Linked DNA regions of Homo sapiens: region 1 is linked to region 2. The links come from fine-mapping of genetic effects on plasma protein levels. Region 2 holds a variant in brackets. A gene starts in the other region. All regions are shown on their reverse strands.

The links. PIP is the posterior inclusion probability: the model's chance that the variant is causal. Protein levels are from antibody-based Olink assays in UK Biobank. Linkage for the fine-mapping came from a reference panel and not from the study's own genotypes, which makes the PIPs less certain.
Region 1: it holds the start of SFTPD, and the variant in region 2 is fine-mapped to the plasma level of the SFTPD protein (UK Biobank, PIP above 0.99).

Annotation. Positions count from the first base shown.
Region 1 is chr10:79,946,655-79,962,310 of GRCh38, reverse strand. SFTPD (surfactant protein D) reads left to right here and starts at 13,206. Exons shown (of 8, transcript NM_003019.5): 1 at 13,206-13,245; 2 at 15,649-15,656. The coding sequence starts at 15,652.
Region 2 is chr9:106,725,982-106,742,656 of GRCh38, reverse strand. No RefSeq gene overlaps it. Among named protein-coding and RNA genes, the nearest start is that of LINC01505, 120 kb to the right of the region's middle. The variant A/G (reference allele first, on the strand shown) is at 8,308.

The sequences.
Region 1 (15,656 bases), not on the chromosome of region 2:
TTTTTTTTAATTATTATTATACTTTAAGTTTTAGGGTACATGTGCACAATGTGCAGGTTTGTTACATATGTATACATGTGCCATGTTGGTGTGCTGCACCCATTAACTCATCATTTAGCATTAGGTATATCTCCTAATGCTATCCCTCCCCCCTCCCCCCACCCCACAACAGTCCCCACAGTGTGATGTTCCCCTTCCTGTGTCCATGTGATCTCATTGTTCAATTCCCACCTATGAGTGAGAACATGTGGTGTTTGGTTTTTTTGTCCTTGCGATAGTTTGCTGAGAATGATGGTTTCCAGTTTCATCCATGTCCCTACAAAGGACATGAACTCATCCTTTTTTATGGCTGCATAGTATTCCATGGTGTATATGTGCCACATTTTCTTAATCCAGTCTATCATTGTTGGACATTTGGGTTGGTTCCAAGTCTTTGCTATTGTGAATAGTGCCACAATAAACATACGTGTGTATGTGTCTTTATAGCAGCATGATTTATAATCCTTTGGGTATATACCCAGTAATGGGATGGCTGGGTCAAATGGTATTTCTAGTTCTAGATCCCTGAGGAATCACCACACTGACTTCCACAATGGTTGAACAAGTTTACAGTCCCACCAACAGTGTAAAAGTGTTCCTATTTCTCTACATCCTCTCCAGCACCTGTTGTTTCCTGACTTTTTAATGATCGCCATTCTAACTGGTGTGAGATGGTATCTCACTGTGGTTTTGATTTGCATTTCTCTGATGGCCAGTGATGACGAGCATTTTTTCATGTGTTTGTTGACTGCATAAATGTCTTCTTTTGAGAAGTGTCTGTTCATATCCTTCACCCACTTTTTGATGGAGTTGTTTTTTTTCTTGTAAATTTGTTTGAGTTGATTGTAGATTCTGCATATTAGCCCTTTATCAGATGAGTAGGTTGCAAAAATTTTGTCCCATTTTATAGGTTACCTGTTCACTCTGATGGTAGTTTCTTTTGCCGTGCAGAAGCTCTTTAGTTTAATTAGATCCCATTTGTCAATTCTGGCTTTTGTTGCCATTGCTTTTGGTGTTTTAGACATGAAGTCCTTGCCCAAGCCTATGTCCTGAATGGTATTGCCTAGGTTTTCTTCTAGGGTTTTTATGGTTTTAGGTCTAACATGCAAGTCTTTAATCCATCTTGAATTAATTTTTGTATAAGGTGTAAGGAAGGGATCCAGTTTCAGCTTTCTACTTATGGCTAGCCAGTTTTCCCAGCACCATTTATTAAATAGGGAATCCTTTCCCCATTGCTTGTTTTTGTCAGGTTTGTCAAAGATCAGATGGTTGCAGATATGCGGCATTATTTCTGAGGGCTCTGTTCTGTTCCATTGATCTATATCTCTGTTTTGGTACCAGTACCATGCTGTTTTGGTTACTGTAGCCTTGTAGTATAGTTTGAAGTCAGGTAGCATGATGCCTCCAGCTTTGTTCTTTTGGCTTAGGGTTGACTTGGCAATGCAGCCTCTTTTTTGGTTCCATATGAACTTTAAAGTAGTTTTTTCCAATTCTGTGAAGAAAGTCATTGGTAGCTTGATGGGGATGGCCTTGAATCTATAAATTACCATGGGCAGTATGGCCATTTTCACGATATTGATTCTTCCTACCCATGAGCATGGAATGTTCTTCCATTTGTTTGTATCCTCTTTTATTTCATTGAGCAGTTGTTTGTAGTTCTCCTTGAAGAGGTGCTTCACATCCCTTGTAAGTTGGATTCCTAGGTATTTTATTCTCTTTGAAGCAATTGTGAATGGGAGTTCACTCATGATTTGGCTCTCTGTTTGTCTGTTATTGGTGTATAAGAATGCTTGTGATTTTTGTACATTGATTTTGTATCCTGAGACTTTGCTGAAGTTGCTTATCAGCTTAAGGAGATTTTGGGCTGAGACGATGGGGTTTTCTAGATATACAATCATGCCATCTGCAAACAGGGACAATTTGACTTCCTCTTTTCCTAATTGAATACCCTTTATTTCCTTCTCCTGCCTAATTGCCCTGGCCAGAACTTCCAACACTATGTTGAATAGGAGTGGTGAGAGAGGGCATCCCTGTCTTGTGCCAGTTTTCAAAGGGAATGCTTCCAGTTTTTGCCCATTCAGTATGATATTGGCTGTGGGTTTGTCATAGATAGCTCTTATTATTTTGAGATATGTCCCATCAATACCAAATTTATTGAGAGTTTTTAGCATGAAGGTTGTTGAATTTTGTCAAAGGCCTTTTCTGCATCTATTGAGATAATCATGTGGTTTTTGTCTTTGGTTCTGTTTATATGCTGGATTACATTTATTGATTTGTGTATGTTGAACCAGCCTTGCATCCCAGGGATGAAGCCCACTTGATCATGGTGGATAAGCTTTTTGACGTGCTGCTGGATTCGGTTTGCCAGTATTTTATTGAGGATTTTTGCATCAATGTTCATCAAGGATATTGGTCTAAAATTCTCTTTTTTGGTTGTGTTTCTGCCAGGCTTTGGTATCAAGATGATGCTGGCCTCATAAAATGAGTTAGGGAGGATTCCCTCTTTTTCTATTGATTGGAATAGTTTCAGAAGGAATGGTACCAGCTCTTCCTTGTACCTCTGGTAGAATTTGGCTGTGAATCCATCTGGTCCTGGACTTTTTTTGGTTGGTAAGCTATTGATTATTGCCACAATTTCAGAGTCTGTTATTGGTCTATTCAGAGATTCAACTTCTTCCTGGTTTAGTCTTGGGAGGGTGTATGTGTTGAGGAATTTATCCATTTCTTCCAGATTTTCTAGCTTATTTGTGTAGAGGTGTTTATAGTATTCTCTGATGGTAGTTTGTATTTCTGTGGGATCGGTGGTGATATCCCCTTTATCATTTTTTATTGCGTCTATTTGATTCTTCTCCCTTTTCTTCTTTATTAGTCTTGCTAGCAGTCTATCGATTTTGTTGATCCTTTCAAAAAACCAGCTCCTGGATTCATTAATTTTTTGAAGGGTTTTTTGTGTCTCTATTTCCTTCAGTTCTGCTCTGATTTTAGTTATTTCTTGCCTTCTGCTAGCTTTTGAATGTGTTTGCTCTTGCTTTTCTAGTTCTTTTAATTGTGACGTTAGGGTGTCAATTTTGGATCTTTCCTGCTTTCTCTTGTGGGCATTTAGTGCTATAAATTTCCCTCTACACACTGCTTTGAATGTGTCCCAGAGATTCTGGTATGTTGTGTCTTTGTTCTCGTTGGTTTCAAAGAACATCTTTATTTCTGCCTTCATTTCGTTATGTACCCAGTAGTCATTCAGGAGCAGGTTTTTCAATTTCCATGTAGTTGAGCAGTTTTGAGTGAGTTTCTTAGTCCTGAGTTCTAGTTTGATTGCACTGTGGTCTGAGAGACAGTTTGTTATAATTTCTGTTCTTTTACATTTGCTGAGGAGAGCTTTACTTCCAACTATGTGGTCAATTTTGGAATAGGTGTGGTGTGGTGCTGAAAAAAATGTATATTCTGTTGATTTGGGGTGGAGAGTTCTGTAGTTGTCTATTAGGTCTGCTTGGTGCAGAGCTGAGTTCAATTCCTGGATATCCTTGTTAACTTTCTGTCTTGTTGATCTGTCTAATGTTGACAGTGGGGTGTTAAAGTCTCCCATTATTATTGTGTGGGGGTCTAAGTCTCTTTGTAGGTCACTAAGGACTTGCTTTATGAATCTGGGTGCTCCTGTATTGGGTGCGTATATATTTAGGATAGTTAGCTCTTCTTGTTGAATTGATCCCTTTACCATGATGTCATGGCCTTCTTTGTCTCTTTTGATCTTTGTTGGTTTAAAGTCTGTTTTATCAGAGACTAGGATTGCAACCCCTGCCTTTTTTTGTTTTCCATTTGCTTGGTAGATCTTCCTCTACGAAGGAGCCTATGTGTGTCTTTGCATGTGAGATGGGTTTCCTGAATACAGCACACTGATGGGTCTTGACTCTTTATCCAATTTGCCAGTCTGTGTCTTTTAATTGGAGCATTTAGCCCACTTATGTTTAAAGTTAATATTGTTATGTGTGTATTTGGTCCTGTCATTATGATGTTAGCTGGTTATTTTGCTCGTTAGTTGATGCAGTTTCTTCCTAGCCTTGACGGTCTTTACATTTTGGCATGTTTTTGCAGTGGCTGGTACCAGTTGTTCCTTTCCATGTTTAGTGCTTCCTTCAGGAGCTCTTTTAGGGCAGGCCTGGTGTTGACAAAATCTCTCAGCATTTGCTTGTCTGTAAAGTATTTTATTTCTCCTTCACTTATGAAGCTTAGTTTGACTGGATATGAAATTCTGGGTTGAAAATTCTTTTCTTTAAGAATGCTGAATATTGGCCCCCACTCTCTTCTGGCTTGTAGAGTTTCTGCTGAGAGATCCACTGTTGGTCTGATGGGCTTCCCGTTGTGGGTAACCCGACCTTTCTCTCTGGCTGTCCTTAACATTTTTTCCTTCATTTCAACTTTGGTGAATCTGACAATTATGTGTCTTGGAGTTGCTCTTCTCGAGGAGTATCTTTGTGGCGTTCTCTGTATTTCCTGAATTTGAATGTTGGCCTGCCTTGCTACATTGGGGAAGTTCTCCTGGATAATATCCTGCAGAGTGTTTTCCAGCTTGGTTCCATTCTCCATGTCACTTTCAGGTACACCAATCAGACATAGATTTGGTCTTTTCACATAGTCCCATATTTCTTGGAGGCTTTGTTCATTTCTTTTTATTCTTTTTTCTCTAAACTTCCCTTCTCGCTTCACTTCATTCATTTCATCTTCCATCACTGATACCCTTTCTTCCAGTTGATCGCATCAGCTCCTGAGGCTTCTGCATTCTTCACGTAGTTCTTGAGCCTTGGCTTTCAGCTCCACCAGCTCCTTTAAGGACTTCTCTGCATTGGTTATTCTAGTTATCCATTCCTCTAATTTTTTTCACAGTTTTAAACTTCTTTGCCATTGGTTTGAATTTCCTCCTGTAGCTCCGAATAGTTTGATCTTCTGAAGCCTTCTTATCTCAGCTCATCAAAGTCATTCTCCGTCCAGCTTTGTTCCGTTGTTGGTGAGGAGCTGCATTCCTTTGGAGGAGGAGAGGCACTCTGCTTTTTAGAGTTTCCAGTTTTTCTGCTCTGTTTTTTCCCCATCTTTGTGGTTTTATCTACTTTTGGTCTTTGACGATGGTGACATACAGAAGGGTTTTTGGTGTGGATGTCCTTTCTGTTTGTTAGTTTTCCTTCTAACAGATAGGACCCTCAGCTGCAGGTCTGTTGGAGTTTGCTAGAGGTCCACTCCAGACCCTGTTTGCCTGGGTATCAGCAGCGGTGGCTGTAGAACAGCGGATCTTGGTGAACCGCAAATGCTGCTGCGTGATCGTTCATCTGGAAGTTTTGTCTCAGAGGAGTACCCGGCCGTGTGAGGTGTCAGTCTGTCCCTACTGGGGGGTGCCTCCCAGTTAGGCTGCTCTGGGGTCAAGGACCCACTTGAGGAGGCAGTCTGCCCGTTCTCAGATCTCCAGCTGCGTGCTGGGAGAACCACTACTCTCTTCAAAGCTGTCAGACAGGGACATTTAAGTCTGCAGAGGTTACTGCTATCTTTTTGTTTGTCTGTGCCCTGCCCCCAGAGGTGGAGCCTACAGAGGCAGGCAGGCCTCCTTGAGCTGTGGTGGGCTCCACCCAGTTCGAGCTTCCCGGCTGCTTTGTTTACCTAATCAAGCCTGGGCAATGGCAGATGCCCCTCCCCCAGCCTCACTGCCACCTTGCAATTTGATCTCAGACTGCTGTGCTAGCAATCAGCGAGACTCCGTGGGCGTAGGCCCCTCCAAGCCAGGTGCGGGATATAATCTCCTGGTGTGCCATTTTTTAAGCCTGTTGGAAAAGCACAGTATTAGGGTGGGAGTGACCCGATTTTCCAGGTGCCATCTGTCACCCCTTTCTTTGACTAGGAAAGGGAACTCCCTGACCCCTTGTGCTCTTGAGTGAGGGAATGCCTCGCCCTGCTTTGGCTCGTGCATGGTGCGCTGCACCCACTGTCCTGCAACCACTCTCTGGCACTCCCTAGTGAGATGAACCCGGTACCTCAGATGGAAATGCAGAAATCACCCGTCTTCTGTGTCGCTCACACTGGGAGCTGTAGACTGGAGCTGTTCCTATTCGGCCATCTTGGCTCCATCCCCATTTTGGTGATTTTAAACTTTTTTCTCACAATGTTAACATTTTCACAATAAATATATAAATCATTTTCATATAAAATCAGATGGATTCTATAACGATTTTTTAAGTCATGCTTTTAGATGAAAATTCTGTTTTTTTGAAATTAGTATGGTTGTATCTCTTTACTTCCCGCCAACATTTGCTTCATATTTTTTTCTGCCTCTTTGTCTTTGACTCAGTTATCAATAGTAAGATTAAAAGACATGCTCTTTCTCAGTAGTTTCAAATGATGCAGGAGACAGAAGTAATACCAGTCAGGATGCAGTAGAGATGTTTCTCTTTAACCACTCCTTTCTCTAGTGAATAATAGAGCTACACAGTGAAGTGTTTTTCCTTTATTGTGTTAATATTTAAAGAAACAAAGAGTAAAGTGCCTAGAATTCTCATCCAAAAAGGTAGTTTCAAGCACTCTCACTTTGTCATTTTTATTAGGTTAGACATTCATAGAACCTGCATATGCATGTGAATTGGATTCAGCCCATTGACAATTGTTGCAGAATCTAGTGAACAGATTAGATTGCAACAACAGATAGCACCTGAGCATAAGCAATCCTACCTTTTCTGTGAGGTTGTGGTGGAGAGAGGGGGTGGAGGATTACAGGTTTAGACTATCAAGCTTCAAGATTTTGCAGAACATAAGGTATGGCAGGGTTTTCTTTGTTTGTTTGTTTGTTTGTTTTGTTTTGTTTTACTTCAGGATCCCTATATTTGTCTTTCTTTGCAACTTAGTTGCAAAGCAAGGTGGTAAATATTTTAAGATAAAACCTTACTCTTCAAAACATTATAATTATAGTCTCATGACACCAAGAAGATAGCAGCACAGAAGATCCCCAGCCTTCCTTCCTGCTCAGAAATACCAATTTAACAACTATTCATGGACAAAATGCCTTTATAAAACATTTGGGATCCAAGTAAAAGGTTCCAGCTCCTTGGTGTTGGGGTGATCAGACCCAACACCAGGCTGTGGGGGCTACGAAGTCTGGTGGAGTCAAAGGAATGAGAAAAGACAAGTTGAGAAATTGGCACCAGGGGACCACTGCTAGTATGGAGGCTGCGAAGGCCCCAAGCTCTGGAGGCCCAAGCTATTTATTGGTGATCAAACAAAGAAACAGGTGGTGAGGATGTGGGGGTTGAAAGGAAGTGGTGTATCAAGTGAATGAGCTATAGCTGTGATGGTTTAGCATTTTCTTTGAAGCATATGGCTACTTGAGATAATGGGAGTGCTAGAAGCAAGGAGCCAGCAAGTCTAGATACATTCCCAAGGCCACCAGGGGTTTTAGACTCTGCACTGTGGACTTGTTCCAAGCCCTGCCTTGGCTTCTCTCCCAACACTCAGCTTTTCTCCTAACACTTGGGGGACTTAAGACTGCAAAAAGCCTCATTGAGAAGGAAATCCTATTCCCTTATTAACAGACTTGTCCATCCAGGGCCCCAATAGAAGGCTAGTCAACAGAACTCAAACAGCTCCACCTCCTGCAAACTAGCAGTGACCATGCACACTAGCAGACCTGTTGGTGATCCTCTCCATCCACAAACTCCAAGGCAACCTGCCCACCTGCAGACCCCTACTGCAGCACCCACCACCCACCCACCACTACAACAATTAGCCAAATATACCTGCAGATACTGACAGCAGGCAGACCCCACCTGCAGACAATGGCAATAGGCCTGCTCAAATGTGTACCCCAGCAGCAGGTCCTCCATGTGCGGACACCTGCAGCAAGCACACACATGCAGCAAACCTACCCACAGATTTCAGCAATAGGCCCACCTGTGGTCACCAACAGCGGGTTGTCTGCTGACCCTATCAGCCAACCTACCCAGAATCTCTGATCTGGCTGCTTGTACAAATGCAGACTCACCAATGCAAGCATACAAGGATCATAAAGAATCAGGCAAACATGACACCATGAAATAAATCTAATAAAGCTCCAGTAACCAAACCAAAAGAAATGAACCAAACCAAACCACAATCTGCTCAACAGATAATTTCAGATAATCATCTTAAAGAAGCTCAACAAGATACAGGAGAACACAGAAAGGCAATGAAAAAATATCAGGAAAACAATACATAAACAAAATTAGAAGTATAACAAAGAAATAAAAACTATATAAAAAAAAAAACCCACAAAAATCCTGGAACTGAAGACCTCAAGGACTGAATTGAAAACTGAATAGAGCACTTCAACAGGAGATTCAATCAAGTGGAAGAAAGAATTAGCAAATTCATAGACAGGTCATTTGAAATTATCCAATCAGAGGAACAAAAAGAAAAAAAGAATAAAAAAGAGTAAAGAAAGCCTATGGGACTTATGGGACACGATGAAGCAAACCTTTCTGTGTATTATGGGTGTCCCAGAAGTAGAAGAGAGAGAAAAGGGGGTAGAATTTAAAGTAATTTAAAAAATTTAAAGAAATAGTAACTTTAAACTTCCCAAATTTAGGGAAGGAAACAGATATCTAGATTCATGAAGCCCAAAATTTCCCAAATAGGACAAACCCAAAGAGGTCTATACTGAACACATTATAATTAGTTTGTCCAAAGTCAAATACAAAGAAAAAAAATTGAAAGCAGCAGGAGAAAACTGACTTGTCACATAAAAGAGAACCTCCAAAAGACTATCACGAGATTTCTCAGTGGAAACCCTGCAGACCAGGAGAGAATGAAATGATATATTCAAAGTACTGAAAGAAAAAAAAAAAAAACCCACCTGTCAATCAGGAATTCTGTACCCAGCAATGTGTCTTTTATTAGTGAAGGAGAGATAAAAACTATCCCAGACAAACATATACTGAGGGAGTTTGTCACCACTAGGTCCACCTTGCAAGAAGTGCTAAAGGAAGTTCTCGAGGTTGAAATAAAAAGAGGTTAAACAGAAACACAAATGCACACAAAAGTATAAGTTTCACTGGTAAAAGTAATTATAAAGACAAGTAGAGTTTTCCTTTCCCCAAGATGGCTGTCTAGAGACATTGGACACCAGTTCTCCTCAGAACAAAGAACCAAAATTGCAGTTGAATAATCATGGTCTGAGTGGAATACTGAGGAATGAGTGACATGACCTATTGGGGAACCCACAGGAAAAAGCTGTGGTGCTGAAAAAGAAGACAGCAAGAGTTTTGCAGAGATTGACTTCCAAGGAACATAGAGTCCCATGGAGAGGGTAGGAGGGGAAGTTGCTCCCCTCACTCCTGTGGCAGACTATGGACTGCTGAACTTGTTGGAGAAACCCTCTGCACCTGTGAGCCCAGGCATTGCTGTCAGTGGCAATTTGGGAACTTCTTTAGGGCAGAGCATTGGGTGGCCAGCTCATGCAGGCACACTCGCTCTCCCCCAAAACCTGAGTTGAAGTGGCAGGTGTCATACTGGTTATGCACCCATTGTGGGTCTGTTCTTCCCAAGGAATCCCAGCCCTTGTGTTTCTGCATCACTAGATCCTCCATGAACATTCCCCAGAACCCACTTAGACTGCAGCAACCACAGGGGACGGGTGGGACCCTGGGGAGCTATGGAATTCCTAGAAGTCTAGCTCTTAGGAGAAGGGAGAGTGTCTGTGCCAACGTACTCCTTTGGATAAAAGAAACCAGTTCATTTGCTCTCCTCTGCCTAAGAGCTCCCCACGTGTGAGAAGAGGCTGGCTGTGCCCCTCCCAGCAGAGACACAGGCATGGTTCTGGGGTCTGAAGGGGAGGAGTGTGGTTCTGCACCAGTAGGCAGGTGACACTGGTGCCTGGGAATAAACATGGAAAGGGAGTCTTCTCCTACCCCCTCACTCAATGCTCCAGATAGACCGTTGGCTGTCCCTACTGGGAGCTGGCACAAGTGCACCTGGGGATGGCTTTTGAGGGCTCCTGGGGGCAGCTGCACTCCCATTGATGGGGTGCCTGCTGGCCAAGCCTTGCACGAAGGGCAGAGTTTATCCTCCTCCCCATATGGAGCAGCAGCATTCCCATAGCAGAATGCAGATGAATATCAGAGCTGCTGAGGGAAGAGGTTCTATCCCAAGGCCATTTTGGTGGTAGCCACAGGACGGGTGTTTTCTGCAGACCTCCATCACACTGCAGCCTGGAGATGAAGGACAATGTCTATCTGAACTGAAGGTCACAAGCTCCGGGACAAGGGTGTTTTAGGAAAGTGGATTGCCTTCCTGCCTTCCCAGGATGTGGAGCTGGTATACTCCTTCCCACTCTGGTGGAGACATCAGTGCCTTTCACCATGAGCTCCCATTTCCACTCCCATCAAGGCAGTTGCTTCTGCTCATAATTGGGGTTTCCCAGGGTGAGCTTGGTCGTTTAGTGCCCCTCAGTTTTGTGTCCCCCTCCAAAGCTTTGTGTTCCCTTCAGGGAATCAGGCCATCCACAGACCAGCCAACTGCCTGTGACAACAGAGATCCCCTCCCAGAAAACAAAGACCAAGTACCCATCAGCTTATGCCACAGCCAGCTTTTATTGGGATGCAGATTGAATTGCACAACCAAATAAAAAACAGGCTGACAGAGGGTATAGTGCTGGGGAATGAGATAAACTTTCAGAGACTTCCACATTCCCAGCCCCTCAGAAGGTAGTATTCCTGCTCATATGCCCAATACATTGCTACTACAATCAGCATAATAAAGCCACCACACAAAAGCTATCTATACAGCATAATAAAGCCACCACACAAAAGCTATCTATGACCAAGGAACTCATACAGAGCTGTGACCCACGGAAGGCACCCAAAATTGAAGCCAAATGATCACACACAACATACAGTCACACCTTCAAAGGGGGAAAAAATCCCATTCAAATGAGAGTAAGTTCAAAAGTAAGAAGTAACGGGTTCTCTAGATGAGAAGAAATCAGCATAAGCACTCTGGAAGTACGAAAAACCAGTATTTTGACATGCCCAAAGGATCACACCAGCTCCCTAGCAATGGATCCTAACCAATATAAAAATTTTGAAATAACAAATAAAGAATTTAAGATATGAGTTGTAAGGAAGCTCAATGAGATACAAGAGAAAGTTGAAAACTAACATAAGGAAATCAGAAAAATAATTCAGGATATTAATGAAAAATTTACAAAAGAGATAGAGATTAAAAAACAAAAACCAAATAGAACTTCTAGAAATAAAAATTTATTGAAGGAACTATAAAATATAGTTGAAACTTTTAGCAAAAGACTAGACCAAGCAGAAGAAATAATTTCAGAGCCTGAAGGCCAGTCATTTGAATTAACCTAGTCAGACAGAAATACAGAAAAAATAAATTTTTAAAAATGAACAAAGACTTTGAAAAATATAGAATTACATAAAGTTACCAAATATACAATATATAGACATTCCTGAGGGAGAAGAAAAAAAATTAAAAGCTTGGAAAACCTATTTGAGGGAATAATTCAGGAAAACTTCCCTGGTCTTGCTAGAGAATTAGACATCCAGATAGGAGATGCTCAGAGAACACCTGGAAGATGCTTTACAAGAGAAACCTCATAAAGGCATATCGTCATCAGACTATCCAAAGTCAATGTGAAGGAAAACATCCTAAAAGCAGCAAGAGAGAAATGTCTAATCTATACAGGAAAACCCAACAGACTAACAATGGACTTCTTAGCAGAAACCTTACAAGCCAGAAGAGATTGGGGTCTTATGTTTAATCTACTTAAACAAAAATCCTGCCAGCCAAGAATTTTGTATCCTGCTAAACTAAGCTGCATAAATGAAGGAGAAATAAAGTTTTTCCCATACAACAAATGCAAAGGGAATTTGTCACCACAAGACCAGCACTACAAGAAATGCTTAAAGTTCTAAACATGGAAATGAATGGACAATACTCCTCATCATAAAAGCACATTAAAGTGAAAAACTCACAGATTATATAAAGCAATTACATAATTGAGACTAAAAAGCAACTGGGTAACAATTATCATGACAGGAACAAAACATCACATATCAATATTAACCTTGATAATAAATGGAGTAAATGTTCCACTTAAAAGATACAGATTGGTGCTGGGTATGATGGCTTACACTTGTAATCTCAGAACTTCGGTAGGCTGAGGCAGGAGAATTGCTTGAGACCAGGAGTTTGAGACCAGCGTGGGCAACAGAGTGAGACCCCATCTCTGTAAAAAATTAAAAAGAGAAATTAGCCAGGTGTGATCATGCTCACCTGTAAAGAGGCTGAGGCAGGACAATCACTTGAGCCCAGGAGTTTGAGGCTGCAGTGAGCTATAAATGCATTATGGCACTCTAGCCTGGGTGACAGAGTGAGACTGTCTCAAAAAAAAAAAAAATACATACAGACTAAAAGATTGGATAAAAGTAGCATCAGCTCAGGGGTCCTAACTAGTTACAAGAACAGTGCACAAGACAAACACCAGCTAAGATGGCAGGGAGAACAAGCCTGAACAAGGCAAGGCAGAGGTCTGCTAAGGGAAATCCATCCCACAAAAGACAAGCAAGGCAGGGGCTCTCTGAGGCCTAGAGCAGCATGCAAAAGAGCAACTCTTTCCAGGTGGCAGCTCCCTAGCTGCTGCCCCCACATGCTGCTGCCTCTGCAGCCACTCTACCTGCCCCACCCCTGCCCAGGTATTCCAAGCAGCTCTCAGCTCTTTCCCAATATCTGGGCAGTGCTGTTGAGACAAAGGAAGAGGAGAAGTGGACACAGCAGGTCTTGGCTCTTAAGATCTGCAGTTGTGAGTTCCTTTTGCAATCGCTGTAGGTCATTGTGCAACCTGCTGGTCTCTGGACTCCTGATTTCTAGACATCTATAAAATACAGACACTGATGATGCCACTTAATTCACAGAGCTGCAGTGAGAAAGGTGCAGATGAGTTCAAGGCCTGATAGTGTTCTGCAAACTATAGTGATGGATGTGCATAGTATTGTGAATATCAGTGGCAGGTTTCCAGAACGCAGGTGGGGATAAGAGTGAGTGAGTCAATAAAGAAGAAAATTGCCCCACTTCTTGAAGGGAGTTTTTGGGGCTGGGCAGCTCAGGGTACAGGGCAGGCATAAATAGTGAGTGCCTGCCAAGCAAAGGCTAGTTTGCTTGGAGCTCCTGGGGCCTAACAAAAAGAAACCTGTAAGTGTCTCTGTTCTTGCCTTCTTTTTATTTTCTCCACATCCTATAAATATCCCTCTGCCGACCTGGGCAATTCAACCTATTGGTGTGGAGGGTCTGTGTAGCTGTTCTGGTCTAGGAGGCATGGGCGCAGGAGGTGGGGAGCACAGGAGGTCTTATGGTGCTCTTCTGCCCCTTATTCAGTGGCCTCAGCCCAGGGGAGGATTTGCTTTCTGAGCTGGGGGTGCACAGGGTGGAAGAGTGGGTGTGACACTATCTAGACCTGGGATGCCACAGTGTGGAAGCTTCAGGTGGAAAAATGCAATGCTAATTTATCTCTAGGCTCTTTTCTGCACTGATTTCTTCAGAAAGGACAGTGGAAGAGAGACAAACCCAGGCACTCACAGGCTGGGGTTCTAAACCCATCCTGGTGCCAACAGCCTGTGGAAAAGCAGGGCAAGCCTGTTTTTCTCATAGCTTCAGGTCTTTACTTTAAAAAATATACTTACTGGAGTAGGTCTCTGATTTTCCAATCCATGTTCAGAGGAGATGGCCTTTTCAATGAAATTGTACTCTGAAAGCTTAGCATAAACTGGGCACTGCAGGGGTTGAGGGGGACCACAACTCTGCCCACTCCATCTGCTGCCCCAGCTAAGATGCCTCATCTGAATCCTGGGCCTGAAAACCCGGGTCTGCCCTCTCCAAGTGTCCTTCAAGCCACAGTGGCTGCTGGTGCCTTCTGTGCCATCTTGAGCCTGTAGACAGAATGCCTATTGCCTTTCATTCTTCCCCAGAATCAGACACAGGGCCTGAGGGGTGAGGGAGCTGCGGGGCACAGAACAATGCCCTTGCTCTGGCCTGGGTCTGGCCCTTGCTGCTCATGATTGAGCCTCTGCCAGAACAGGTGTAACAAGGTAGCCGCTGCTGGCAGTGAGCTCACCCAGGTGTTTCTAGAGACTACCAGGATACCCAAGGAAGTGGTGATTTCAAAATTGAAAGAGGCTAGTGAGAAATAGGGGTCATCCACAGCCCAGAATCACCAGCAGTCAAAGAAGAAGGCACTCCTCTGGGCAGGAAGCCCCCCACTTGCCACCACCCCAGTTGGCCTGGTGACCCCTTTCTTTGCACAAGTCCCTCTGGCTTTGTTCCTAGCCTCTGCGAATCTGATCAGCTCTTTTCACTCTCATAACTTTACGGTTTCTCATTGAGAGAAAAGATACCCAAAACAGTTAATGTCCCAGGTCCTGCTCTTATCCTGGTCTCAGTTCCTGACCATCTTAGATAGTAAATGGGTGCCCTGTTGGGTAGTTGCTCTTGCTTACCCACAACACTAGCTTTCTGCCTGACTGAGCCTACCTGGCATGTCCTCTTTCCATATAAGACTTCTTTTTTTTTCTGAGATGGAGTCTCACTCTCTTGCCCAGGCTGGAGTGCAGTGGCACGATCTCGGCTCACTGCACCCTCCACCTCCCGGGTTCAAGAGATTCTCCTGCCTCAGCCTCCCGAGTAGCTGGGATTACAGCACGCACCACCACATCTGGCTAATTTTTTATACTTTTAGTAGAGATGGGGTTTTGCCATGTTGGCCAGGCTGGTCTCGAACTCCTGACTTCAAGTGATCTGCCCGCCTCGGCCTCCCAAAGTGCTGGGGTTACAGGCATGAGCGACCGTGCCCAGACTCCACATACTTCTTTTCCAAACCCTCTCAGGTCTTAGAAGAACTCTAGGTGTCTCAGGATTTCTCCTACTGCTAGTTTAGTGTCTCTGAAAACTTTCACCTGGGTTCCCTCTGGGACTTTTCTCTAGAGACAGCACCTGCTCGAGGAATGGCAAATTGCCAGGCAAATGTGCACCACACTCCCAGCCTGCGCTCAGGAAGGACATTACTAAGCACTCAGGACTCTGGCTGCATTTTCAGACCAGCACTATCAGCACCAGTGCTAGTCCATGCAAGGCAGCAAGAGAGAAGAAACAGGCTTGCCTTGTCTGAGCTAAGCCAGTTGCCTCAGTGGTACAGACAGGGAGATGGTCTAGGGAGTGGGCGGGGGGTGTCCTGCCCAGAGGCACTCAATGAACCCTTCTTGATGTGACAGATGGCCCCAGTGAGGAATGCTACATCCTAGCCACTGTGCCAAACTTAGTGCCCAAGGGAAGGCACAAGAAGGGAAGACATGAGCACCTGGGAATGGGGGATGCTGCTGTCAACCTATGTCAGAGTTCCAGCTGGGTAACTCATGCTCTCCATCCAGACCTTGTGCCCTCCTTGTCCTTAAACTGCTTTTGGATTCCTGCTGCTCTAGGCCCCATAGCAGAGGACAGAAGGAGGGAATGGGGGCTTCTTGTCACCTCTAGAAGCTGAGCCAAGCCCTAAACCATGTCCATGAAGCATAAGCATGTCTTTTCTCTTTCTGTTCACCTCTCCAGGCCATGCT
Region 2 (16,675 bases):
GACAACACATCAGATTATTGTTCAAATTATTTCTGTCAATTATTTGCTTGGCAGATAATAGATGCTTGTGGTAGGCAGAATTATAGGAAGACCCTCAAGAATCCCACTCCATAGTGTACATACTCTATATAATCTCCTGCCTTCGAGTGTGGGAAGGATCTGTTAATATGATGGATGCCAATCTTGGGAGTAGGTTACATTATTTGGTAAAGGTGAAGAGATTTTTGCAGATGTAGTTAAATTCCCTAATTACTTGGCTTTGAGAAACTTATCCAGGGTGGGTCTAACCCAATCAGATTAAAACCCTTAAAAGAGGGACTGAGTCCTCCTGGAGGGAGAGAGATTTTCCTGATGGCCTTGAAAAAAGAAGCCTTCATGTTGTGAGAGGGCCTGTTGAAGACGGCCATGTGGCAGGAATATGACAGTGGCCTCTAGGACCTGATAGGGGTCTCCAGCTGGCAGCCAGCAAGAAAATGGGACTTCAGTCACAAAGCTGCAAGTAATGAATTCTTCCAGTAATCTGAATGAGCTTGGAAGTGGGTTCTCCTCCAGTTGAGACTCCAGATAGGAATGTAGCCCAGTAGCATCCTCATGAAACCCCAAGCAGAGAAGCAAGCTAAGCCATGACTCGACTCCTAACTCATGGAAAGTGTGAGATTATATGTATGTGTTTTTTCAAGCTACTACCTTTGTGGTAAATTGGTACGCAACCATAGAAAAGTAATACAGCACTTGATAAATGGTTGAATGAATAAATGAACCAAAGTCTTCATGCATATGCTCCAGATGCCCTTGTTATACATTCCTACAATGCTGGATCACACCTTTCCATGTTCTGGATAGCCTTCTCTTTTTTAATATTTACCCATTTAAATTCTACCCATTCTTAATGGTCCAAATCTCCCCATGAGTCCTTCATGGCACTGACCTCCAGGGAGCTCACCATCTAGGTGAAGTGGTACCACTTGGGGCTTCTCCATGATGTGATAATCTTCTGCTTGGTGCTGCTCCTTGGTGGTCTCCTGACTCCCTAGGCTTCAGGGTAAATTTGTGAGATATTTGTCTGAAGCTGACAGTAGTAATAATGCGAAGAGCTGAGCTTGACAGGAGAAAGGATGTAAGGAGAGAAGGGGAATATAGACAGAGCATTGGCCATCATCTTCCACACCAGAGGAAGAGAGAAAGAATTCTTGAACAAAAATAAATGTAGATACAAGGTAATTTCTTGATACATACATCAAAAAAGTAACATTTTAGCAGTTAGAGTACCCATCACTCAATGGGTCCTAAATTCATATTAATTTTGCATTACCTTTCTTTCTCTGTACTATCATGTCTAACAATTAAAATATTTTTGAGGAATGTCTTATATTTTACCAAATATTTTTATTTCTGTAATCTTACCACAGGTCAATGAACTAGGTATTATATTTTCATTTAACAAACATGTAAATCAAGTTATGGGGACATGGAATAATTTGCTGACAACTCAGTCACCTAAACTGTGATGAAATCAGGATTATACCTAAGTTCCTTACTCTTGATACTCTCTTTTACTAATACCCACAAGACAATAATGAAGTGTCAATGTCTGTATAAATTTATTTCAACCATATTCTGAGCTGCTGGCTGGCTCAGGCTGACAGGAGGGCAGGGAGGCTCTGACGAAGGGACTCAGAGAGGAAGACATAGTTCTTCATCCCACAATAGCTGGGAATTCTTGTGTTCATAAGAAGCATTTGAAATTGGAAATTATAATACCTAGCAGTAAAGGGAAGTGTGTGTGTGTGTGTGTGTGTGTGTGTGTGTGTGTGTATGTGTACAAATGAAAGAACATGCTTCTCTAAGCTGCAAAAGGATTTAGAAATTCCCTTCTTTAAAATGATCAAGTGGGGTGGTAATTGCCTACAAAAAATACTGCACATAGCAATGAAGGTGGAATGAGGAGATTAAATGACTCAGGGCTGGTGAAAGAGAATGAGAGGAGAATAATCTAGGAGGCTTTGGGTTCTTCAACTGGCAAGTCAATGAACTTCTCCCCAGGAAGCTGGAGATGTTGTTCTTGCCTCTGGGGGTTGCAGTGTGACATGGAAGACATGACAGAGTTAACATTTACTCATCTATTCTTGCAGAAAATTGAGTAAAAGCTTTCCTATCTCCAAATCAAGTATCAGTTATCAGTAAATTGCCTTTTCTGCTGTTGACAATTCTGTGTTCAACCCAAAAGACTTTCTTCTTTCTCTTTAGGGACACAATAATAATAAGAGTAATAATAACAATGATGATAATGATGCACAATCAATGCTTTTTAAGTGCCAGACATTGTGCTGCATGGTTTACAGATCCGATTTCATTTTGCCATGAAAATAATCCGGGGAGATTTTAATTTTTTTTAATCTCCATTTTGCAGATGAGGAAACTGCAGCTTAGGAAGGTTTAGTGGTGTGCTAAAAAACTGACATCTGGGAGAGGATAGAGTGAAGTTTGGGGAAAAGACCTGATTATATGTCCTCTGACTCTGAACAATTAAGCTATATAACCATTAAGGTCATTGAGATATATGACTTCTGAGTTATATGACCAAGGAGCTATGTGACCACTGGCCTATATATATCACAACTGAGCTATCTGTTCATAGACCTCTATAGCTACTGAGCTATACGATCACTGAGCCCACTACTGAGTTACGTGACCATGGAGACATATGACCCCTGAGGCTTATGACCACTGGGCTATGCAACCACTGAGCTATCTGGCCATAAAGCCATATGATCACTAAGCCATATGCCAAAGTGCTGTTTCACACAGGTGGTTTTAGGTATAAAAATAAATATTTTATGGTATAGAAATAAACATTCCCAGTCTACCTGTCTCACTTGGCATCTTCTTCTTCTAATTTTTATGAGCCAACAGTAACAATAGGTAAATAAAACACAGCTAAGGCTTTAAAAGAACAAGTGACATGGACATCTGACATCATGTCTCCATGCCTCACTAGTTGTGGGAACTTGATCAATTCAATTCAACAAATGGTTATGGAGCACATACTGCACATCAGATGCTGTGCTAGGACCACGTTTCCATGAAACTTAGAGAGGAAGACACGTGTCAAGTAATCAGACACAAGTGAGTGTTACAGACAGAGGGCTCTGGAAACAGTGAGCAAGGATATGTTCCCAAGTCATTTAATGGTTTTGACCAACCTTAGTCTATCCAGCTAAAAATGGAGATGATAGTAATACCTGATCTACCTATTTCATGAAAATCAAAGTATTATATATGACTGTGTTGTATGAACTGTAAAAAATATGTTAATTATCCTATTATTTGTGTTTGTTATTGTTAGAGTGATAAGATTTCTTATAAGTTACTAAGCTCCCCATTACATTTTGCTTGCCTGTGGGTATCATATCCCCAACTTGTAGTCTAAAATAATTCTTAGAAGGTACAAATTCAACACTATGCGTTAGCCAGAATGTGAATATTAACCAGCTTATGGACTTCAGAACTAATGCGTACATTAAAAATTTGAGCAACAGAAATATATTAGCATTTAATACCCTGAATCACATAAATCTTGAATAGTGAGTTGGGTGAAAAAGATGTGGATTCATAGCCTAGATATATAGTCGCCTGGAGATTACAAAACAGTAGCTGTGGCTCTGGGTTGATAAACTTGGTGGGAGATTTTACTTCTTTCTTTCCCTCTTCTGTTTTTTTCCAGTTGTTGCAAGTATTTGCCTGAAGAAAAGGAAATAGTTCTATTTACTCAAACACATATGCATTTCCCATAAACTCTACAGTCATGATCTTGAAGTGAGATCTCAAAACTAAATTTCTAAGAGAATCAGTTGGAAACTGATGCTTTATGTAGAGAAGGAAAAGCTTTTACTCAATTATCTACAATAACAGCAGGGGAAATGCTGAAAATTACTGACATAGTAAATGGATTTTTTTTTGCATAAATGTTCTCTGTTTTCAAGTTTACTTTAGTGTGAAATACCTTTATTATGAAATGGTCCCTTTATCTCATTCCCTTGTTTCTCGATAAATAGACTTTTTTTTTTGGTCAGAGGCAATGGGCCAATCATCATGGAAGATAGATTAGTCTTAAACATCTGATGGCTCCCAGGACTTGATTTTTCATAGTTAGATGGACAATGTTTGGTGTGATTGTATAGAGTGGTTTGATCTTAGAAGTAGCAGATATATCTTCCTATTTTTTCTTTTCTTTTTTTTTTAAACAGCTCTATTAAGATGTAATTTACATACCGTAAAGTTAGTCATAGAAAGTGTCCAGTTCAATGGCACAGAGTTGTGCAACCATCAACATAATCTAAATTTAGGACACTTTCATCACCTCAAAAAGAAACCCCATATTCATTAGCAGTCACTGCCATTTCCCTCCACTCTGCCATCCCCCAACAATTGCTAAAACACTTTCTGTTGCTGTGGAATTGCCTATACTGGACATTATATATAAGTTATATTATACAATACATGGTCTTTTGTGACTGATTTCTTTTACTTAGAGTGTTTTTGAGATTCAGCCACATTGTAGCATATTTCAGAACTTATCCCTTCCCATTGCTGAATAACATTCCATTGTATGAATATGCCACATTTCGTTTATTCAATGTCCTGCTTTTTTCACCTCTCTGAAATGTTTGCCTTTGTTGATAACTACTTAGAAATTCTTCTCCCTTGATTTTTATAGTACCACTTTTGGTTTTGCTCTAATTTCTCTGGCTATGATACTTCAAACTCTGTCACGGGATTCTCTTCTTCCACCCACTGTTTAACTCTTGATGCTCCTCAGATGCATCTTTAGACTCAGCAACAGGAAGCCCTGCCTGGAGCATCTTCTTGAAGGCCCCACATGTCACAGTCTCCCAGTACATTTATTAAAGGACACAAGGGCACCACTACAATTGGGATCCAGTACTCAGTACTGGGACTGTATGTCTCATAACCTTAAACAACTGCTCTCGTGACTAACGCTGTTCAGGCTTGGGGAAATCCTTCTCTACATCTGTTGACCCATGTAAAATTACATGGGTCATGTAATTTACAGTTATGTAAAACATAACTATAAAATTAATGGTTCATTTCTGAATTGAAATGTTGCTTTAATAATTTTGTTGACATCTCCAGTTGGTACTGCCTCAGTTTTCTATTTTGTCACTACCGTGAAAAGAACATGACTATATAAGAATCTTGATTACAACAACATCATTAGTGATTTTGTTGAAAAGAAGACAAGGAGATAAATTTCATGGGATAAATTTATAATAACTCATGAACTGTGCACGTCTTTTTTTAATCCCTCATTTGCACATTGCTGGGCAATCAACAGAGCATGCAGACATTCAAAATAATAATTGAACTCAGTCATCCTATTAATTTTTGCCAAATTTTAGACACATAAAAACCATCATTTTATACACTCAAACTTGTATTATTGTAAAGATATTTATCTATCTATCTATCTATCTATCTATCTATCTATCTATCTATCTATATTTTTTTTTTTTGAGATGGAGTCTCACTCCGTCACCCAGGCTGGCATGCAATGGCATGATCTTGGCTCACTGCAACCTCCACTTCCTGGGTCAAGCCTCAGCCTCCCAAGTGGCTGGGATTACAGGCACCCCCCATCATGCCCGGCTAATTTTTATATTTTTGTAGAGACAGGGTTTCACCATGTTGGCCAGGCTGGTCTTGAACTCCTGACCTCAGGTGATCCGCCCACCTCAGACTCCCAAAGTGCTGGGATTACAGGCGTGAGCCACCACATCCGGCCATAAAGGTATATTTTTAAAAGCAGGGGGATTAAACATTTTATTTAACAGCCTTTTGGTTTGATGTATTGCTTTCCATTGGTAGTCTTGCCCAAAGCCCCTCAAACATAGACTGTCTTCAGGGATCTCCAGTAGGACTCCTCTCTTTTCACTACATACCGCTTCTCAGGGTGAACTCATCCATTCTCACATTTTTAAATACCCACAATTTGCTGTGGAACCCAAATTTATTTTTTTCCAGCCCAAATTTTTCTCTTGCATGTCTTTAATGCTTAACTTGGATGCCCCACATTGGACACAATAGGTCGTTAACTAAATGCAGTCTAATTCCACTCCTTCTCAAACTGCCTTCCCCTGAAACCTGGGAATCATCTTCTCCTTGTCCTTCTTCCTCCCCTGCTTTTAAAATAGCCTGTTGGCAGTTATCTTCTACTGATTCCACTGACTTGATGTCTCTTTCATCTTCTCTTCTCTATTCCCAATTGCCACCGTCTTTGTTAAGATGTTCCTTATTTCATGTTTATTTTTCTACTAGTCGTTCTGACTCCAGGCTTGGCCCTCCCTTCCAGCAAAAGTCTGGTCAGTTTATAACCCTGCTTAAAATTTTCCAATGGAGCTTTAGGAAAAGGTCCAAATTCCTTGACATGGTATAAAGGATGTCTTGTGATCGAGCCATTGCCTCCTGTTTCTCACAGCCACCTCTTGAAATAGCTTCCCCCTTGTTCTTGTGCTCCAGTAACACTAGCTTTTGGTTTTCTGAATTGTGCCATTCCTCTTCCTGCCTCAGTGCTTTTGTACTTGCAGTTTCCTTGGTCTAGAATGTTCTCTCTTGCCTTACTCTTATCCTTTACCTAGTGTTTGGATAAGTATATGATAGAGGTCTGTCTCTACCATACAACATCTGTCCCTGCTGTGCCCTCCTTCTGGGTAATCTCTGTATATTTTTTCCTTTATAGGTTAAGCCCTAATGGTTCTCTGTCACATAGTAAAAACTCATTATATGATTGCTGAATGAATAAAAGGTTCATTCACTGTTGCATCCCCAATCTTTAGCAGAATGCATGGGGCCTAGATTAACTGCTCACTAAATCCTTAATAAATTAAATAAATAAACTCATGCATTCAAAAACAGGAATATCCAGGTAGTTGCTTGAGGAATGGCTTTTCAGAGCTTGAGTTTCCCTCAGAGGTTAGGTAACTTGTCCTTTAATTCACTGAGCTTAACCAAGTGCTGGCTATGGACAGAAACATAATAAATGCAGTGCAAGAACATGGAGTAGATCATATAGTTTGCCTCTGCCCGCATGTGTTCTAAATTCCCTTTCTTGCAACAGGTGTCAGGAGGCTGGCTTATCAAGTGGGTGTTCTAGAAGTCTAAAGGAGGAGGGAAGGGGTGGTATGTGATTTGGGCATGTAATTAAGGGACTATATATTAATAGAATCAATAGTTCAGTCTAGACCTAATCTAGTAAATCAATGGGTCACTCAGCTGAGGATGAAGACCAGTAACATGGTCCACAGCCGAGCATGGGGTCTGGGATATGAAGAGGAAGTGGCTGAGACAGGTACTGGTTCTCACCTGTTTGTTGTGATGGAGTAGGTGCAAGAACTATGCTTAAAAAAAAAATAATCCTCAAAAGTTTTAACTAATTCAGTAATCCAAATGTATTAAGATTATTTTGGCTTCAAGTAATGAAAGTGTGGTGGCACATGCCTGTTGTCCTAGCTACTTGGGAGACCGAAGCAGAAGAATCACTTGAACCTGGGAGGCAGAGGTTACAGTGAGCCAAGATTGCACCACTGGGCAACAGGAGTGAGACTCCGTCTCAAAACAAAACAAAAAAAAACAAAAACAAAAAAACCCCCTAATTCTAAGTGGCTAATACAATAAGGAAATGTATTATTTCATATTACAAGAAATTCAGAAGTAAGGGGTCTCCAGTGTTGGTTATTCAGTAGAGAGATGGTAGTATCAAGAATGAGGGTCTTTTTTTCTTTCACATCTGCCACTGTTGTCTTTATTCTCAGCCTACGATTCTCTCTTGGTTGCAAAATGGCTGCTGCAGTTGTACATAACACAGCCAGACAAGACAATGTCCAGAGAAAAAGAAGAGACCAGCTTTTCTTATGTGTCTTTTGTTGATTTTTTTTTTTGAAAAGATATGCTTTCCCACAGTTCTCCAGCTCACACCTCATTGGCTGGAATTACAACCATACCACCATGCAAACCAATGTCTGTTCAAGGGGAATGGGTTCATAACCCACTCCTGGGGCTGGAGCTAGCAGGGAGCATAGGCACCAACAGTATTTTTCTTCCCCAGGCTGCCTCTACCTTGAACTTCTGACTCAAAACCTTTGCCAAAAAAATATCCTTTTTCCTCCAAGCTCCTGCTCCACAGGAGAAGGACTGAATTTTGAAAGAATTAATGAATTTTTGTTTGTAGACTCCTTTATGTACTGGAAACATAGTTAATGGGCCTACCTCCATGGATTGGGTGTAAGTTAT[A/G]GAGCCTGGAGAGCAGTCCAGGGATGTTGGAGATTAGTTGCACGATGCATAAGAGTGATTATGTTTAATCACTCTATTTTCTCCCGCCTCTTATAAAAAGCCGCCTAGGTGTGGTTTGCCAATAGTATCAATCTGTTTCAGCTTCTAGGCCAGTAGTATTTGCAGTTATGTGGCCCTGGAGTGACATTTTCTGTCACCATTAACCAAAGGAGCCACATGAGCCTAGTATAACAGAATATTCTAATACAGAAATGAAAGGTCTTGCAGCCTTGCAGGCTGCAAAAGAAGGACCCACTCTCAGCCTATTATCTTTTGCCTGGCAGTGTGATTTCCTTAGACAAAGCTCCAAGTTTGGCTTTATATCCACAGGGAAAGAAACTGGTCAAACTAGTTTATTTTTAATCCTTTGTTTTCTCTCCACCAGTTTTTCACTTTGAAAACCTTTTTAGACCACCAAACAGATAAAGTTATGTCAAAGAAGAAAATCAATCAAGCTGAATGTTTCATATATGTTCAATTCAATTCCAAATACACTTTTCGAGAATCTACAATGAGTACAGTATAGAAACAGATATTGTGGAGAATACATAACTTCATAAACATGACATTGTACACACACATTTTCTGAGAACATGTTTTGGCTGAGTACTTGGATAAGTTTGGGGATGAATAAGAGATTTTCCTGTTTTCAAAGTATACATGTTCGGGGTGAGAGAAGGCAAAACAGACACGTAAATAATCCACAGAATTTCATTATGATATATCAGGTTAGTGCCAGTTGCTGTGGCATCAAAGAAATAACCAAGCCAAGGCTAGAAAGAAAGTGAGGGAAGCCATTGCCCTGGAAAAAATTTTTGGGTGAGTATAGAGGAAACTCTTTGCCCTAGAAGTGATATTTAGGTGAGTATTGAAGGGAAATAAGGGTTTTACAGATGACCTTGAGTCTCAGTTTTCAAAAGTAGAAATAAGACATTTACACCAAAAGCTATAAGAAAAGATAGAATGTGCAAAGTTCTCTAAGAGGGCATCATGGAATGTTTCGAGGACGATCTTTTGTTCTGGGCTTTAACTATTGAGTGGGGTATTGATGTTAGAAATGGGCCAACAGTATTCCATGCAGAGTGTACACTGTAAATGTGACAGGAATAAGACAAACTAAAATAATTTATTTTTTCAATTTTTTTTCCCTTACCCTATGTCCTAGCCTGGAAGAATTTTTTTTGTTTATTGAGTTAGCTCCAGGGCTCTTACCGGAAAGTTCTAAGAAGTCAGGGAGGCTGAAATGATACAGATATGAAGAGCTTAGGAAGGGAGACAAAAGAACCTGAAGGTGGGCTTGAAGAATATCTTGGAGTGGGAGCTTAGAGTTGGGGAGAAGAGAGACTTTAGGTGAGCCTAGGCATATCGGGGGAAAGGAAGGAAAGAAATGGGAGAAGAGAGGTTTTAGGAAGTTTTTCTATGTTCTCGCTTTGGGTATGTTTATGAAAGACTGCAGTAAAGATTAAATTATTTGTATGTCTATTTGGGTCAGGGTTGATATACCTATGACACACACTGAATCAAGATGGTGCCATATGGCACGTGGGCTTTATGTGAGTTACATTTGCTAAGGCATGAAAGTGGTAGAGCACTAGCAGAACTGGGAAGCAAGAAATCATACCATATAACTAAAAACAGGGATGTCTGAAGGGAAGTACTGGCACAGAGGTTAGGTTTATTCAAAGAAGTGGAAGGCTTAACAGTCAAGGTTAGGAAGGTGGTACGTGTTCGTGGGCAGAGCAGAGCCTCTGAAGTTTCTGAATAGGATGGCTCAGTATCAGAGTGTGTTTTAAGACAATTACATTGATAGCAACGTCGGTGGGAAAGGCGATAACAGGGTAAGGGATAACAATTAAAGAGTTATTGCAAAACCTGATGCCAAATAACAGATTTGGAAGATTTTTCATGGATTTAATTTGTTTGTTTATGTGACTCAATCAAGGGTTTGATTCTATCTGGATTCAGCCGTAGCCAGAGCTACAGGATGACAATGTGTCCACCAACCTCATTACTGTTTTTTATTTCTATTATTTAGGAGTGATGGAGGACTTACAAAGTGCTCAGGGTGGATCTGGAGTACAATGCAATAGAGCAAGTTTTTATTGAGCCCCCACCAGGTGGCTGGCACAAGGGCCTTGAGCACTGGGCTTACCATATAATTAGAGTTACCAGATCAACACACAAGCCAGCCCCCAGTGCAGAGGGAGACAGAGGGCTGTAACTTAATGAGAGGCAGATGTCAACGGGGAGCAGATGTTTGCAGCTCTTCAGTTATATCAAATTAATCATCTCCTGACTTCAAGGTGCTTCTTGGAGTCCAGGAAATTTCCCTGTAATAAATTGCTCCTGGGATTGATTTTTAAAGTGAGAATGTATTTGCCACTGTCTTGAATGCTTTAGAACAATTCTTTCTAGAAGCAGAAGAAGTTTTTTAATATGGAAAAATTTAGGTGAAGGTTAAACAAGACCAAATCTAAGTTCCCAGCCTGGTTTATAAAAAACAGAGGGGCTGACTTTTTACTAATAAAATTAGCTGCTGGTTCTGCTCCACCAGTCTGCCCACTTTTGCATTTATTTAGCAAATAATTTTCACAGACACAATATGTACTGAAGCTATAACACTGAAGGAAAATGTAGAAGCCAACCTCATGGAGGCTGCAGCATTGTAGTAAATAATCACACAGATACATCTATAATTACAAATGGGGAAAGTGCTATGCCAGAGAGTTATGTGGTTCTTGAAGATAGTTAATGCAGGGATTCGATTCAAGTCAGAGAGAGCAGAATAAATCTTTTCTAAGCAAGAGATATTAGCAGAGTTCTTCCTTCTCTCTTTTTGATCTCTTTCCTTCTCCCTTCCTTCTTCCTTCTTTGTCTTTCCCTCTCTTCCCATCTCACCTTTCCTCCTTTCTCTTTCCTCCTTCCCAGTCTACTTGCTTCCCTCCTGCCTTTTCTTTCCTTTTCTCACTTCCCACTTTCTTCCTTCCATCATCATTCCTTTCTTGTCTTCTGTTTCCCTCCTCACCCTGTCCTCCTCCCTACCCTGTACTTTTCTTCTATTCTTTCCCAAATAGTAGTTGAAAGCTTGTTAGGGACTCAAGCCCTGCACCATACCCGGAGGGTTGATGTACATACAGAGATGAACAGGAAACCATTTCTCTTCAAAGTGCCTAGAGATGATGCATAATTAGTTGAAATTCAGGACAGTAGGTATTATACTGGAAGCAGATACAGGTTTTTCTGGGAAGGGCACCAGACTTAGGCCAGGGTATTGGGAAGGAGCAGGGGCCAGGTGAGAAAATAGTTTTAGAAGTGGTGGACATTTGAGATCATTCTTAGCAGACAGCTAGGAGTTAGTTGGAAAATAGGGTGGAGGACCTTGTGGGCAGGGGAACACTCCCATGTTTAAAAACAAGAAAAGTGTGATGGGACAGTTGCATCTTGGGGAAGACAAGATATCCAGTATAACTGGGGTAAATGATGTGAGCTGGGAAGATCCAGAAGATGAGATGGTTGGAGATATGGTAGGAGCCAGATGGAGAAGAACAGTGCAATATATTGTCCTGTGGGCAGTCATTGAAAGCTTCAAGAAGAGAGCCACATAATCCAATCTACTATTTAGAAAGATCTTTCTCAACAGTAGTGTGGTCCCACCCACTCCCAGCAGATTAAAAAATCATGTATCTTTATATTTGGCTTTTCCAAAACATTATTTCAGGCTGTGAGGTCTGGCGAGGGCTGATGGCCTCAGATGTGGGAACAAAGTGAAATCTCAAGGTATTTGACTCTGACAGTATTGCAGAAGTCCCTTCACCTCTTGTCTAAGGTCTCTGTTTATAAGACTCCCCCCGCTGCCCCGCAAAAAAAAAAAAAAAAAAAAAAAAAAAAGAATGAGTAAACACCATTGGAGCATCTTAATTGTTGGGAATTTTCTATTACTGTAGTGATGATAGGTAAGCCAATTCCTTTGTTTTCAAGGTATAAAAGTAAAAGAATCCTGAAAATGATGGCAGTTCAGAAAATATTCATTATTCTTAACTATGACTTCTCAACCTCGGCACTGTTGGCATTTTGGCTGAATAATTCTTTTTTGTGAAGGGCTGTCTTACAATAAATAGTTTAATAGCTTCCCTGGCCTCTACTCACTGGATGCCAGTAGAAAATCTCTTCCAACTGAGGACTATCAAAAATGTCCCCAGACATTGTCAAATGTCCCCTGGGGGACAAAACTGCCCCCTGTGGAGAACCAGTTTTAAACCGTATGATTGGAAGTATTGTTGACATGAAGAAACTCAGATAAGATTTAGCCAAGGTGTACTCAGCAAATTCTTCATGTGTTTAGAGTCACATAGGGAGGGACTGATGGCATCTGATGCCAAGTAAATTCCAGTGTTGACTCCAGAAACATCCCCTCTCTGCACTCTCAGGCTCCTGCTAATTATGAGACCACCCCTTCCTTTCCCTCATCTCCAAATGACTCTAATGTGTTATCATGGCACAGATCCTACTTTCTCTCCAATTACAAGATCAGATGGACATTTTTCAGTTTGGCTTTCAAAGCTGGTTGCTCCTCAGAGACAGCTTTGCTAAAAGCATTTAATGATCCTTGAGGTAGCCAAGCTTTAGAGGTGCCTATCTGTGGCACTGGGCAGGATGGGGAAGCTATCCGGGGTTCTGTTAACCTTCCAGGGTTACTGCATCTTCCATTTCTCTGTCCTCCCAGAGTGAGGCCTGCTGGTTTTATTTCGGTTTTGCATTTCAGATTCCTGTTTTATAGGATGCCAGCAGCAATGTTTCAGACATTTCTAGGCATTGCATGAGGCTGCTTTTCCCCAGTTAGGTCTTGGGCACTGTAGCACAGCTTCACATATTAAAATTAGGATATCTTGGAGTCACCATTAGGCTGGTGACTAGACTTCACACCCCTTGAGAACAAGGACTCAGTCCTATTTCTTTGATTTCCCAGTGCTTATACTTAGCCGCCCTGCTGGTTGCTGAAAATGCGTATCTTCCAGGACACACAGGAGTCTTGGCCTTGCCACATTTGTCAGCAATGTGGGTTGTCTCGTCATCTGGAACCTACATTATGGTTGTGAACCCACGTTTTACCTGGAACCTTCAGCAGGGAAAGTGTACGCTATTTTTAACAGTGTCCCTTTTTTTCCTAACATGGTTCTTTAACAAGGTCGTATCATTATCAGTTATTTAATATTTCTAAAATTAGAAATCATCTCACTGCTGTGGTAGCTCAAGCTTCAGGCCAGACTCTTTGAGCCTTCTCACACTGGGGCTATTGATACAGCCTCGTGGTGAGTCTTCCCGCTCCTTCTTTTTCTAGTTTATGGTTGGATTCAAAATTCAGCCAGGCTAAACTTTTTGCTCTCTTTTGGTCAGGATTTATACTTATTTAAGGCACCGCAATAGCCACTTTTAAGCTAAAAAACTGGGATATAGCAGCCTGGTTGGAAGTCAACATTCTTACTCAGTGGTCTTATACTTAACTAGCTCAAATAGCTCTCTGACTAGCCTAGGGAAAAGGCCATGCAGTGAAAGGGAGTGGAGTAATGATTCTCTCCAAAGTGGCCCTCCCTGCTGCTCCCTCATAAATTCAACATGTATTTGGGGATAATTAAGAGGGGGCAAAGTGGAAAGCAAGTAGAAGGAAGACAAGGGAAGGGAAGATGCATGCAATCCTTCACAAAGACCTTTCATCACCTGCAGTGTGCCAGTCCCTGTGCTAAGGCCTAAAGACAGTATTATATATGGCATGGCCCTGCCCTCACCAAAGTCATAGTTCACATGAAAAGGACAGAATGAGAGCAAAAGCATCATTAAGACTATATGAAAGCACTTCCTGGAACAGAAAGAACTTTGACTATCTCAACTAATCTCTACATTGTATAGGTACTATCAGTATGCTTATTTTACAGAGGCGAAAACTGTTGCTTGGACAGATTAAGTAATGTGTCCAAGGTTACTTTTCTGATAAAGGATAGAGCCAGCTCTGGAGCCCAGATCTTCTGACTGCAAGTCCAGTGATCTCAGCAGTCAAAAGAAGAAATCTCACCTTCCCGCCTGTGACCAGCCTCCCTCCTCCACCAACAAGCCCTCTGTGATATCTCAGTATTGATGTCTTGGCAGTGTCTTTGGTCCTTGTGCCATGTCTAAAGACAATATTTACTTCTCCTCCCGTAGGGCTCCTTGCTGGCAAAAGGATTGCTCTTCAGACGTGCTGGAAAAAGATCCACAGCACACCTTCAAGGACAGCCTTAAAGCAGGAGTCTCAGGGTGGTTATTGATTACCCTGTTTCCATTTCCCATTGTGGAGCACCATTCTCAAACACCTGCAAGGGCTCTGTGGCCATAAATCAGCTCCTTGTAATAGTAATTAATATGGTGACCCACACAGGGTGAATTCTCCTTTTCCAAAGAACCTAAATAAGTGGGTCATAGAGATGAACATAACTGAAAAATGAGGGGGAACCTCCTTAATGCAAATACATTGTTTTTTTTTCTCCTGAGGAGAAATGAGGAAGGTTTACTAGCCTAAAAATGACTATCACACTAGAAAATAAGTACAAAAAGAAGTGTATAACATTAACATTTTCAATTTGCATGAACTACTTAACCTAAGTCACAGGGAGAAAACTGCGTGAAAATTTTAGCATTATGTGTAAAACATAGTAGGCATTCAGTAAATATTTGTTTTATAGTGAATGAACACATGGCCAAGTAATCCACTCAAGGTGGAAAAACTTTACTGGCTCAACTGGGCATTTTGACTATATTATGAGAAAAACAACTACTATGATGGTTAATACTGGGTGTCAGCTTGATCAGATTGAAGGATACAAAGTATTGACCCTGGGTGTGTCTGTGAGGGTTTTACCAAGGGAGGTTAACATTTGAATTAGTGGGCTGGGTAAGGCAGACCCATCCTTAATCTGGGTGGGCACCATCTAATCAGCTGCCAGCACAGCTAGAATATAAGCAGGCAGAAAAATGTGAAATGAGAGACTAGCATAGCTTCCCAGCCTACATCTTTCTCCCATGCTGGATGCTTCCTGCCCTCGAACATCGGACTCTAAGTTCTTCAGTTTTGGAATTCGTGCTAGCTCTCCTTGCTCCTCAGCCTGCAGCTGGCCTATTGTGGGACCCTGTGATTTTGTGAGTTAATACTTAACAAACTCCTCTGTCTCTCTCTCTCTCGCTCTGTGTATAGATATATACATCTATATATATATATATATAGAGAGAGAGAGAGAGAGAGAGATGGAATATATATATATATGTTCCATTAGTTCTGTCCCTCGAGAGAACCCTGACTAATACAACAACCACAAAAAATCCACCAGACTCACTGATTTTTTTCCCCCCAATAGAACTAGCCCAGTGGTGAGTGTGTGTTTGGAACAATTAGAAATTAAATGAGATTTTCGACTTGGTGCACACACCAATTGATATACATGCCCTATGATTACTCTGTGGTGCAGTGAGAAAAAAATGCAAGGGATTCAGAGTTAGAAGAGTTGGGTTGAAGCCCCAGTTCTGCCTCTTAGCAACCGTGAAACTTTGGGACAATCATTTAACCTCTCTGAGACTGGGTCTTCTCCTCTGAAGATGGAGATAACATAAACAGAGAATTGAGTCGGCAAATGGGGTTGACAATGTCTGTGGAAGTGAGCTGTCCATCATAAACTGGGATGCAAATATAGATTGGGATTCATGTTATGAATCACCAGTGTCATTAATATCATATTAATGGAACAAATGACCAACTTTTTAATTATGGTGTTAATAACTATGAACATTAATTAATTTGAAGTCGCTCCAGTCATTGCTTAGATAAGTTACCTTTTGAAGCTGGAGGAAAACTTTCCTAAATGTCACTGGAAAACCAAGGGAAGTGTGGGTTCCATTCACCCTCTGGGACCATCATGGTTATTTTGGGATCAGTCTTGGCTGACAACATCTGAGTGAAGAGCACTGATGGTTTCCCTACAATGTGTTGCAATCAGAGGATATGGGACAACTGACTTCAGTTGGAACCAAACCAGAGCTGTGTGCTAGAGTTGCAGTTTGCCTATGTGTGCAGATTCTTTCCTACAGCCAACTCCAAATAGGAGATAGAGTGCATGCTTCTGTCCCTAGCAGAACCCTATTTGCTGAAGGGCAGCCAGAAAGTGAGGAGACGCTCTCAGGCTTCCTCAATTTGTTCTAACACGCTTTTCTCCCAGTGGATGTATGGATTAAGAAGTCTGGGTGAAAGATTAACACAGGGCCAGGCTAGATAGAAAATGGAGACTGGGGGTTTTACCAAATCCTCCCT